Homo sapiens: one gene and its partner. The protein of the gene in region 2 interacts with the protein of the main gene of each other region in a pairwise test. Each region holds a gene or a part of one and is shown on either strand. Other genes may lie near its edges.

The links. The genes of interacting proteins can lie anywhere in the genome.
Region 1: the proteins of SMAD4 (region 2) and ETV4 interact in binary tests that used the Homo sapiens proteins (3 or more experiments, as listed by UniProt).

The regions. Positions count from the first base shown.
Region 1 is NC_000017.11:43,539,841-43,543,340, reverse strand, and holds part of ETV4 (ETS translocation variant 4), read left to right. Parts: intron 1-3,500.
Region 2 is NC_000018.10:51,057,713-51,061,212, forward strand, and holds part of SMAD4 (mothers against decapentaplegic homolog 4), read left to right. Parts: intron 1-412; coding exon 413-532; intron 533-627; coding exon 628-744; intron 745-2,153; coding exon 2,154-2,204; intron 2,205-3,500. UniProt on the Homo sapiens protein: In muscle physiology, plays a central role in the balance between atrophy and hypertrophy. When recruited by MSTN, promotes atrophy response via phosphorylated SMAD2/4.

The DNA.
Region 1 (3,500 bases), on a different chromosome or scaffold from region 2:
TGTCTGTCTGTGTCAGTGTCGGTGTGACAGCAAGTGTGTGTGTGAGAGAGAGAGAGAGAGAGAGTGTGTGTGTGTTAGTTACATGCTGCTGCCCTGTACATTTAAATCCAGTGGGTGGGGAGGTGGGGTGGGGATTGCAAGGCGGAGGTGAGGGGGGTGGGCGCTGGGATCTCCTTGGTTCCCTCTCCTTCCTTCTGAGGGAGCAGCTCAGGTTCCCAGCTGGTGATGGATGGCCAGGTCTGAGGGGGGGATGCTGAGGCCGATCGCTCCTTCTCACTTTCTCTGCGGAGACAGATGCAGCTGCCGGGGCCCTGTCCCCCTGCACCATCCCAACACCACCCCAGCCTCCTCTCCTGTCTCTTCCCACCAGGTCAGTGACCCCGGCAACCCATGGGGAGCTTTGGGGTGGCAGGGAGGGACTAGCTTCTTTGGAAACTTGCCAGTGGTGGGACGCATTAGGAGGAAAGGGGACCAGAGCCCAACCTCCCTTTCTCAGTTTGGTTTTTTCCAAAGCCCCAATTTGAAGAGAAGCAGCAGGGGGGTCCTGGTAGTGTGGGTGGGTCTGTGAAGACAGCATTTGGAGGAGGCACAGGTTGGAGCCGGGCAGATACAGGAAGATTCCAGTGTGGTTGCAGGTTCAGTGTCCTGCGTCCGGGCGTTGAAGGGTGAGTGTGAGTGCGGCTTTATGGAGGCAGCTCACATATCCTTGGGGTTGGGTTTTTGTACACAGGGGTGAATGATGTGAGGCTAGGAGGGCGTGTCTGATTTGGGGGTGCCTGGGATCTGTTGAGATGTTGGGGAAAGAATCAGGCTGCTACAGGGAGACCCAGGCTCAGGCAGGCTGAGCCCAATATGTGTCTGGCTATGGTAAAAGATATGCTGGTTTTTTGTCCAAGGTTCCTTTCCAGGCTTGTCAGGAGCCCTGAATCCTTGGGGAAAATGACTTTGTTGTCTATTTGGTAGTAAGGGCCATTGACTCTAGGCCATGACCCCTTTGTGTGAGGCTCAGGTCTGTGGATTCCCAGAAGCCCTATGGATAGGTTGCTGGGATCCTTGATCCCTCTGATACTGTGTGTAAAATTGCTGGAAGTGCACCATACATAAAGGTGTATGGATTTTTTTAGGAAGAGAATGACCCATAGCTTTTATCAGATTCTCAAAGGGATCGATCGATCTGCGCTCCCCTTTTCACAGGAATCACTGCTCCCCAACCCTCCTCCAAGGGCTCCAGTCCCTTTGCCCTTTGGCTGTCCCAATCATATTTGTAGGTCAAAAAAAGACCCCATGTGTGGAGGGCATGCATGGAGGGCACATTTCACCCTGTGCTGTCTTGCTGCTGCAAGAGTGAAGTAAAAGGAATTAGGGTGTGTGCATCCCTGAATATGCGTCCGAGTGCATGTACACTGGTGCCTCGGCATGTCTGTGGGGAGGGATGAGGTTAATCTCCTCCCTAATCTTTCCCAGCTACAATGCCTCCTTCTCCATCTTTCTGTCTCTTCCCCTTCCTGAAGACTCTTGGGGACAAATATGTCCCCTCCACAACTAGTGAACTGGTTCCTTCCAGTACAGAGGCTGCCAGGGTGGGGGCAGGGTAAGGGACAGCGGTGACACAATGGAGCAGAAGCTCTGGAGAATGCCTCTACCCCCTTCACCCTATGACTGGATCCTGGGAAGAGGGTGACCGAGCATATGTAGTGTGGGTGGCTAACCTATGGTGAGCTTCAGTGTATCTCTGTTTTAACCTCTCAGTTCTTCCAGAATCCAGCTTGGGAGACCCCCCAAGCCCCTCCTCTTTTTTTACTAACCCCCCTTTTTGAAAGGAGAGTCCCTAAAATTCTTTCTCTCTCTCTGGGCATTATGCTGTCTTGGCACTTTTCCCACCCCCTCCTTAATCATCTGCCTCGTCCCCAGACAGATAAACTCCATCTTAGTACCGGGATGGAGCTGGGGACAGACCCTGGCACACTGGCTTGGCAGCCAAGACTCAGCCAAGTTAACAAATAAATAAAGAGAGTGGTGTACACTTAAGACGAAACATGGTAATTAAAAATTCTCCTGCTCTCCAGGAACGCGAGGCTCAGTGTTCCTGTTTCTATCCTGTTGACAGTCTCTGGATGACTGAGGGCCCTGGCCTACCCCTTTGGGAGAAGGCCAGTGTTTGGGGGAGGGGCTGAGCTAGGACAGATTTCTCCTGGCTCTGGGAAGAGGATGGCACCACCTCTTTTGGGGTGTGGTCTGTGTGCTGGAGGAAGCCTCCTCCTGGATTCCGGGCCTGGAGGGGTCCCTGGTTAAACTGTCAGGCCCGAGGCAGGAAGAAAGGCAAGATGATGCTGAGGGTTCTCTGCTCTCCAGCACCAGTGACGCCAGCAAGAGATACCCCCAGCCCATTACCTCAATGGAAAGTAGCAGTTAATGAGGCCCCAGGGGTGGGGCCGGAATGCGTCAGCCACCCCTGAGTTCTGCACCACCCTTTCCCTTGGGACCCTTCTTGCCTAGTAGGAGGGAGGGAAATGTTGGTCACTCTGCTCCCATCACCCCAGCTTCCTGCCACCTTGGGGGATGTTGCCTCTGAATGGACCAGAGGGCACAGTGGGGAGCCTGGCTTTGCATCCCTGGGCAGGTGGACAGATTTGGCCTCTTACCCTCTATCCAAATGTGCCTATTTTTAAGGTTGTGGTGGCTGAAGTGAAAGGATTACCTGAGCCCAGGAGTTAGAGGCTGCAGTGAGCTCTGATTGTGCCACTGCACTCAAGCCTGACACAGGAGACTTCCTTATAATAGATTTTAAAATGCAGATGCCTGGGCCCCACCCCAGTCCTATGGAATGGGACTCTCCGGAGGAGGGGACTGGGAATCGTGTTTTTATTTTATTTTTATTATTGTTATTTGAGACAGGGTCTCACTCTGTTGCCCAGGCTGGAGTGCATTGGTGCTATCTTGGCTCACTGCAACCTCCACCTCCTGGGTTCAAGCGATTCTCCTGTCTCAGCCTCCAGAGTAGCTGGGATTACAGGCGAGAACCACCATGCCTGGCTAATTTTTGTATTTTTAGTAGAGATGGGGTTTCGCCACATTGGCCAGGCTGGTGTAGAATTCCAGACCTCAGATCGTCTGCCTGCCTCAGCCTCCCAAAGTGCTGGGATTACAGGCGTGAGCCACCACACCTGGCTGTAATCGTGTTTTTAACAACGTCCTGGTGACTCTTGAATCAGGCCAGTTTGGGAATGGTTGTCTTTTTGCCGTGTTTGTGCTCCTGAAAAGATGTGTGCTGGCTGTGTGTTTCTGTTTGTTCTTGCCAGCGGATTTCATGTCTCATTGATGTCTTTGGTCACTTCAGACCAAAGTATTATTATGTTGACTTGTCCTAAGTTCTCGTTTAGCTGCTGGTGGCTTGTGATTGTTAAACTCCCTCTCCCTAATGCTTCTGTCAAGAAATCAACTATCTATTAATATAAGCCTATGTTTATAAACACTTGGCACCTCTGATATTTAAAGCAAAT
Region 2 (3,500 bases):
TCAGTTTTCAACATTTTCTTGAGCCTGGATTTTTGGGGTCCTAATCAGAAAGGTCCAGAGAGAGAGGTGGATGGAGTGGCCAGGATGAACTGACATACCTCTGAAGAAGTTAATATGATAGGCCAGACGTACAGTGGTGTTTTGCTGGCATTTGAAATATGTTTGTGAAGAAATAAGCCACTACAATTAGTTAGACATTACCTAAAATGGAATAATTTTGAGCTTCCTCAAGTTAAAGTTTGCCTTTATAGATGACTGTAGGTTTTTTACCTGATAGGCCATGGGTGAGTTACACTTTTTGCCCATCTTTATAGTTGTGCATTATCAGATAAAATTGGTCCTTCATTTAGTATATGAAATCATAAGATGACATCTATGAATGTACCATGTTAATGTCTTCTTGTTCCTCTAGGTCAGCCTGCCAGTATACTGGGGGGCAGCCATAGTGAAGGACTGTTGCAGATAGCATCAGGGCCTCAGCCAGGACAGCAGCAGAATGGATTTACTGGTCAGCCAGCTACTTACCATCATAGTATGTACATACTTTAAAAAATCTTTTAAATAGTTGAGAAAAAAGTAGGCAGCCTTTATAAAAGCAAATTAACCCATGTGGGCCTTAATTTTTAGACAGCACTACCACCTGGACTGGAAGTAGGACTGCACCATACACACCTAATTTGCCTCACCACCAAAACGGCCATCTTCAGCACCACCCGCCTATGCCGCCCCATCCCGGACATTACTGTAAGCTCTTGTTTTTGTTGTAAGGGCTATTTTTTTTTTTTTTTTGGTAGGGCTTTGTTTTCTGTTTTTTAAAAATGTTTTTACATCTTTTATTCATCCTGTGATTTTGTTTCATTAAATAGTGCTTTTCAGTATTTTTTGTAAACAGTATTATTTTTCATAGTTATCCTACCTTTTTATTTTAGAGGAGTGATGTTTGCTAAATACATTTATTTCTCTGTTGCTAATGTTTCATTAACATCACATTGATTTCCATTCATTTGTTTGTTTGCTTTGTATATGTTCTTAGATCTCATCTGTGTCTTGTATATCCACGCATAATGGATTGAAACCCTTTGAGTGCTAAGTTCTCAAGGTTTCCCTCAGCGTAGTATTCAGTGTACTTTGGATAATGTTGAATCTATAGATAACTCTGTGCTGGCATGATTGGGAGGAATACCCTACAGATAACATGTAGTTTCAGGTAGAATAGGAGCATTGTTCATATGGCTTAGTAAAATCGAGAGTATAACTCTTATATACATTAAATCCCTTTCTTCTCATTATAATATTAATAGTACCAAAGAAAACTTAGAAAATATAGAAAAGTATAAATAAGAAAAGCAAAATTACCCTGAATCCTGCTACTCAAAAACAGCCACTTCTAATATTTTGTTATTTTCCTTCCAGTCATATAAACAGGTATATGTAAATTGACAGGGGCTCCTACTCTATGTGTATTGTATATATCTTGCTTCTTTTCAGTTATGTTACTATTTTTTCCATTTCTTAAGAGAATGTAATTTTTAATGGCTGCCTAGGCCGTCATAGTGTTGAAGGGTGCTGGGTTTGGACCTTTAACAGGCTGTGTGACCATTGACAAGTTATTTCACCTCATTAAGCCTCAAGAGTAATAATAGTAGTATCTACCTCAAGGGGTGTTCGTAAGAAGTAAACGTAATAATTTATGTGAGGTGTTTAGCACAGTGTTTTAACACATTACCAGTTTTCAATTATGTTAGCTATGATTCCATTAAATAAACATCCTTAATTAACATAAGCACTTGTTTTTAGAATAGACCTAACAGTTTATTATTATACATTGCATTATAAATTGTACTGTATTGGACGTTACATGAATAATTCATTTATGATCTGTATTAAATGTTGGATATAAAATTATGTGTAAATTGTGTAATAATAGCACTTGGCAGATAGCACTGAAATGTTAGTTATTAAATATCCACAAAAGTATTAATAGTTTAAGACTATTTGCTTATTGTAAACTTTTAAGTTCTTAGACATTGCATAAGCTTGTTTTAAACAATTCCTAACCTATAATAGTTATATTTAAGTAAGATTTACTGAAAGTTTTAGCATTAGACAACTTTTAGTAAATAAAAATGGAATTTTTGTTGTCTTTTCTTTAGGGCCTGTTCACAATGAGCTTGCATTCCAGCCTCCCATTTCCAATCATCCTGGTAAGTGTATTTCAAAATTGATTTCCTGTATTTAGATTGATTTAGTGGTGATTGAAACGCACAAACACAGGCTTTAATGGAATTATGGGGTCACTTCTCAGATGAGTACAATACTCATCATGACATGAGTTAATCAACAGTTTGAGTAGTCAATATAGTCACACATAGACTGTCTATATTTTATTCAGTTTAACTGTCCCCAAAAGAAAAGAACTATCTTTTCAGCTAAAATGAGAATTACAGAAATGCTGACTTCAGCATTGAATACATAAATATGCAGCAGAATAAAACTAGGTTTCAAAATAGAACAGCTGTAAAACTATAGCTTAAAAAGCCAGGAAAGAATCTTAAGTACATGCCGAAAAGAAAAATAATTCACTCTATTCAGGATCTCTGGTTAACTGGAATTTAGAAACTATTTGATTAAATTGTATGCAAAAGAGTAAATCGCTAAGTAGCTTTCTTCAGTTCAAAGTTTGTGTATAATTTTTGAAACTGTAGAGGTAATAAAACAGAAAACACTTGAAAATAAAATACTGAAAGTCCCTTGTAACACAAACATAGATTTTGAATTTTTTTCTCATCCTTTCGTATCTGTTTTTCTTAGCATAAAAAGATGCAAATATATTACTTCAGCTAATCACCTTAATTTTTTGGAAACTATAAACTCAATTTTCCTCCTAATTAAAAGAAAATTATGAAGAATTATATTTTTATTTTTACTTGTTTATTTTTGAGAGAGGGCCTGGCTCTGTTGCCCAAACTGGAGTGCAGTGGCATGATCTCAGATTACTACAGCCTTGACCTCCTAGTCTCAAGCGATCCTCTCACCTCAGCTTCTAGAGTAGCTGGGACTATAGGCAAGGGCCACCATGCCTGGCTAATGTTTGTATTTTAGTAGATAACAGGGTCTCACCATGTTGCCCAGGCTGGTCTCGAACTCCTGGGCTAAAGCAGTCCTCCTGCTAATAATTTTATTTATTTATTTATTTATTTATTTTTTTCCGAGATGGGATCTCGCTATGTTGTCCAGGCTGGTTTCGAACTCCTAGCCTCAAGTGATCCTCCTGTCTTAGCCTCCCAAAGTGCTGGGATTATAGACGTGAGCCACCACACCAAGCTTGAAAAATTAAAAAAATATATTTTTAAATGATTTTATTTTTGATCTTTGTGGGTACATAGGAGATGTATATATTTATGGGGCACATGAGATGTTTTGATACAGGCATATAATGCATGATAATCACATCATGGAAGATGGGGTATACATCCCTTCAAGCATTTATCTTTTGTGTT